Linked DNA regions of Homo sapiens: region 1 is linked to region 2. Evidence: fine-mapped expression QTL. Tissue or cell type: esophagus mucosa. Region 2 holds a variant in brackets; the other region holds the start of a gene. All regions are shown on one strand. Distances are between the middles of the regions.

The links. PIP is the estimated chance that this variant, and not a neighbour inherited with it, causes the effect. A credible set is the group of variants that fine-mapping cannot tell apart.
Region 1: TMIE starts here. The variant in region 2 is the best candidate, but not a certain one, in a credible set for the expression of TMIE in esophagus mucosa (GTEx, PIP 0.71).

The regions. Positions count from the first base shown.
Region 1 is chr3:46,700,149-46,702,829 of GRCh38, reverse strand. TMIE (transmembrane inner ear) reads right to left here and starts at 1,438. Exons shown (of 4, transcript NM_147196.3): 1 at 1,250-1,438. The coding sequence starts at 1,342.
Region 2 is chr3:46,675,706-46,678,386 of GRCh38, reverse strand. It overlaps ALS2CL (ALS2 C-terminal like), which reads left to right. Exons shown (of 26, transcript NM_147129.5): 16 at 1-128; 17 at 1,365-1,538; 18 at 1,649-1,745; 19 at 1,985-2,142. Among named protein-coding and RNA genes, the nearest start is that of ALS2CL, 17 kb to the left of the region's middle. RefSeq lists an enhancer at 2,059-2,607. The variant T/C (reference allele first, on the strand shown) is at 1,579.

The DNA.
Region 1 (2,681 bases), 24 kb before region 2:
GCTGACACCTGACTCTAGCCCAGCCTTGTGGTCATGCCCTCTGGGCAACAGCAGGGACAGGCTACATCTGGGTCCAGGGCTCTGTCCCTATGTCCCCATCAAACCCTCCAGTTCAGGGCTGTGTCCCCCCATAACAACTTCCCCATGGCTCTGTCCTCTCTATCCCACACTGTCCCCAAGCCCCCACCCCTCAGGACTTCCCTGGGCACCTCTCACTGCCTCTTGCATTTCTGTTTTCCTGCTCCCTCTGGTCCGCCCCTGCCTGCACAGCCTCCATCCCCTGCTCCTCCCTGGCCCTGGCTCCTGGGCCTTCTCCCTCTGGCCTCACAATTCAGAACTCTAGGTCTGGTCTGCCAGCTCCCTCGTTGGCTCCCCTTTCAGGCTCCGCAGGAGTGGGGTACAAGGGGGTTAGGGAGGCTACAGATGGCCCCACCCTTCCTGGCCCCAGCCAGGCTCTCCACCAGGGCTCTCCCCCAGCTTCTGTGCTATCTCAGCAGCTCCTCCCACCTCTCCCACTGTGTGCCTGCTCCCAATTTACCCTCCTTCCAAACCAGAACTCATCATGACTTGTCCCTGAGCAGAAACCTTCTAAAGCTCCCGGTTATCACCAGGACCAAGTCAGACTTCCCAGTCCCTAGGTCCTGCCCTGCCTGCCCCTCTGGACCTAGTGCTCCACATAGCTTCTCTGTAAAGGGTCTCCTCATCCTGCTGCCCCCACCCTCCAACTTGGAATGCCCTCGTCTCCATCTTAAGGCTATGTCTCCCCCTCCATTAGACAGGGGTCCCTGGAACATCTCTGGAGATAGAGGCTGTTGCCTCCAGAAGACCCTAAATTCAGGGTCTGTTCCATCAGACTAGAGGTCCAGGAAACCCAGGGCTGTGCACCTCCCTGCCAGTGAGACCAAAGGCTGGAGGATGGGGGCCCAGTATCCCCCATCAGTCTGGGCAGGGCTGTGTCCCCAAGTCAGGCTGGGAATCCCTAAGGTCAAGGTGAGTCTCCCCCGTCAGACTAATGTTCCAGAAATCGGGTACTGTGCCCTTCCATCAGACCAGGGACCCTAAGAGTGGGGCTGAGTCTCTCTCACAGCCTGGCAGGGCTTGGGGCAGGGCTGCATCGCCCGGGAGACTGGATCTCTCAGGGCAAGAGTAAGGGATCAAACAAGCTCCGGATCAAAAAGGCGTCCCCTCTCCCCCAGCCCCCTGCCTGGAGGGTGACAGCCTCCCCAGTCCCTCCGTGCCGCGGCCTCACCTCCACCAGCTGCCCGGCAACCCCCGCGAGGCACACCCCGAGTGCGGCGCCGCCCAGCACGCAGAGGGGACCCGCGCCCGGCCACCCCGCCATCTTCGTGCCACCGCGCCGCTTGCGGAGCCCAGGGACGAACGGGCCGGCCGCCGGTCACTGCCCCTGCCAGCCGGCGCTCGGTGGCCACGGGCTTTGGCCACGGGTAGTCAGCGAGCATCATTTATTCATCCTCGGTGTCAGGTTCCCGCGCCGCCCGCCCCCGCCATCGCTGCGGTGGAGGGCCCGCCCCCTCCTTCCCGGGAGATCGGGCCGCAGGCTCCCCCTCCCTGCCCCCACCTTCCGCATCCCCAGGGACACTGAGGTGGGGGTGGGCGGGAGGGAGGACAGGCTGGGGCCAGGTCCCTAATCAACAGGTCCCCCTCCCTTCTGCAAATGGGCCTCAGTTTCTCCATCTGGGACAAGGGGGTGGGACTGGAATCTGCTGATCTAGGAGGCCCTTCCCATTCTGTCATGCTGGATTTGAAAAATATACTGGATTTGAGTTTGGGGGGGGGGCAGAGCGGGCAGGTTGCCATGGTGACAGGCGCTCAGGGATGTCCTGGGCTTTCTGGCTTGGCTTCCTGCCCAGAGGCGGCTCTGGTCACCCTGGACACCAGAGCTGGAGAGCAGGGGATGGTATGGTCAGAGCTGCCAGCCGGCAGTGTTATGGAGGGTTCCAGAAGAAGCCAGCATCTTCAGCCCCACAGGACAGAAGTGGGCTGTCCCTGGAAGGGCTGGAGGACCATTTTCTGACCCTGGCTGCCCTCAATCTCTGCCCCAGCCTGAACACTGACTCTGACTTCAGTCTAAGCCAGGACCCTGACCTCATGCTGAAGTTGACCCACACTGCACTCTGGCCCTGACCCCATGTTGAGCCTTGACAACTGAGGGACAGAGGGAGGTTCTGAGGAGATGTAGAGACCTGGGTGGGGGCTGAAGACTTAGGAAGAGGAGTGGGGAGGCCTGGAGTTGGTAGACTCCCCTTCCCTCCTTTTCTTCCTTCCTTCTATTCTTATTTATCTCCTGCTGCTGAGTGTTAGGAGAAGCAGCCCAGGTGTTGGGCCCCTGGAACCCTTATCACCAGGGGCACTGGTGAAGGCCTGCGCAGGCTGGGGATGGCCCAGCAAGGCCTGCCCTGAGAACCAGGGAGACCCTGTGGCTCCAGAGCCCTGTGAGGTTCTGGCCTGGACATGCCATGAATGGGCAAGGACCACAGCAGGCTGCAGCAGGGAGCGGAGGGCCACCTGCGGTCACCTGCCAGTGTCAGGGCCCGGAGATGACAGCCAGGCAGGAAAACGAGAGCTGTTGGAGAAGGACTGCAGCCCAGGAGACCCATCGAGGAAACGCTCAACAGTGGGAGGTAAAGTCTGGGGACTGAGTGGGCTGGGCCACCCAGTCC
Region 2 (2,681 bases):
AAGGTCACCTTCCCCAATGGCTTCACCCTGGAGGGCTCGTTCGGCAGTGGGGCAGGGAGAGGACTGCACACACAGGGTGTGCTGGACACGGCTGCCCTCCCACCAGACCCGAGCAGTACCTGCAAGAGGTGAGTGCCTGGCCCCTCTGGCTCTGGGCCTATCTGGGGATGTGTCTGTGTTTCCATCCCAAAGACTCAGGTCTCCTCAGAGGGGCCTTTTTGCACCCACCTCTTAGCCCTCTAGAGAGTTCCGAGAGCCCAGGGTGTACAACTCCAGTCAGAGACTCTTGGGATCAGGGGCTGTGTGGATATAATGCGGTACACCACAAAACTGGAGAGAAATATTATTTGTAGGCTTTGCTTAGGTCCTGCTTTTTTTTTTTTTTTGTCTCGAAAGGATACAATACGGTTTACAAACCAAACATACAGGAAAAAAAAAATAGAAAATAAGAGCATATGTTAACCTTAAAAGAAAGGGATATGTAGACATGTCCTACGGCATTTACAACTGATCATTGAGCCTGGCTCTGAGTTTCCTGGCAGCCAAGGTAAAGAAGGAAACTTGCTAAGTGGAATCACAGTCATTATCAAGGAGTATTCCAGAGAAGGATAGACTTCTTTTCCTGTAGGAACAGAGTTCCTCCTTGGAAAACAGTTGCTCTTGTTGCGTCTGTTGAGGAAGACTCAGTATTGCACAGAGGAAGGAATCTGTGTGGGTGGCAGTTCTAATGGGAAGTGGTCCCAGGCAGCATTTCAGATGTAGGGAGGGAGTACAGTTGACTACTTGGCCCGCTGTCCCTGCATGCTGCTTCTCCCTGACAGCAGGAGCTGGGAGTGGACAGCAATCCCTAGGGGCAGGCCCCAGCCTGGGTGTGAGTGTGGGCTGCGTGTAGCCTACGAGCATGACACTGGAGTGCAGGGCTCCATTAGACATGCGCAGCCAGGCCCCAGCCTGTTGGCCAGGGCGGGATCAACCACAGGAAGGAACCAGCTGTAAGGGAGGGCAGAGGGGGATGTCTTGGAGGGGAATCCCAGACTTTGGACACTGGTCTCTCTTGGACCAAGACCCCCTCTCTGGCTTGGCCTCCAGATCTGCCCACCTTTCTGTCTCCGTCTTTCCAGGATTCCATATGCTTCTGTCTGTCTTCTCGTCGCAGGGTAGATTCTCTGTCCCTTTCTCTGCTGCTCTTCCTCCTGGAGCCGTGGAGGTCAGCCCCCTCTGCATGGTTCAATCCATCCACCCTTCTTGGGGCTTGATCCTGGGCCAGGCTCATACCCCCACCCCTCCAAGGGCCTGGGCAGAGTCCTGCCTACCTCAGCTCCATCTCTCTCTGCCCCATCACCCACCCTCCATCCCCATCGCAGGCAGCTGGGCGTGGGTGCCTTCCCCGTGGAAAGCCGCTGGCAGGGAGTCTACAGCCCCTTCCGGGACTTTGTGTGTGCTGGCTGCCCCAGGGACCTGCAGGAGGCCCTGCTGGGCTTCGACGTGCAGAGCTCCAGGGAGCTGCGTAGGTCTCAGGATTACCTGTCCTGCGAGAGGTGAGGCCGGCTGTGTGAGCATGCACAGGTTAGGGTGGGC[T/C]GGGGAGGGCTTCCTGGGGGGAGGGGGCTGGGCCGAGGTGTGGGTGAGGGATGCTGTGTGTGGTGCCCAGGACCCACCCTGAGGACAGTGTGGGCAGTATGGAAGACATCCTGGAGGAGCTGCTGCAGCACCGGGAGCCCAAGGCCCTGCAGCTGTACCTCAGGAAGGTGAGAGCCCTGCTGGGGTGGCCAAGGGGGTGACATTGTCACTGTCCCTGGTGGGGAAGGGCTCCCATTTTTCATAGCAGGGTGCTGACTGAAGGGGACAGGCCTGTGGATCCCTTGTCCTCAGAGGACCTCAGTGTTCTCGTGTATGAGATGGGAGAAGTGTTGGGAGGCTGGTGTGGGCATGCTGTGCTCCAGACCCCAGTGCTTAGTCTCTCTCTGTTGCCTATGCACTGGCCCAGGCTCTGAGCAACTCACTGCACCCCCTGGGAAAGCTGCTCCGGACACTGATGCTGACCTTCCAGGCTACCTACGCAGGTGTCGGGGCCAACAAGCACCTGCAGGAGCTGGCCCAGGAGGAGGTGAAGCAGCATGCCCAGGAACTCTGGGCTGCCTACAGGTGGGCTCGGTGGCAAACGGGACAGCTACTGCCCTGTGACACTAGTGTGCCCTTTCCAGGCATCAGTTCTGCCTTGCATTTGGGAGGAATGCCAAGTGTCTGATTCAACAATGAACCAGAGGCTTGGTCAGTGTGCAGCTGCTGAGCAAAAGGGTTAGAGGGTGGGGAGGTGAGAGCAAAGGCCCAGCTGCAGCCCTCAGCTAGAGTCCAAGACCCAACCAGGCGCTGGGCTGACTCTGACCGCAGGTGCACTCTCACCCCACTGTAGGCTGAGCTTGGCCCTGGACTCGGAACACACCTGCAGTCCCAGGCTGGGCTGTGACCCCATGAAACACTGCAAATAGAAGCCTTAGATGCTATAGTTCCTTCTGCTGCTGGATTCTCAGGCTAACATCCTGGAGCTCCAACCTTCTAACTTCTGTGGTTTGAGAGGATGAACCCTGCAGGCCATGTCCACAGTTCTGAGAGGCCACCTGCTTTTGCCTTTGTTGACTGGTGGTAGAACTCCAGTTCTGTGGCAAGGGGCAGCCACACCATTT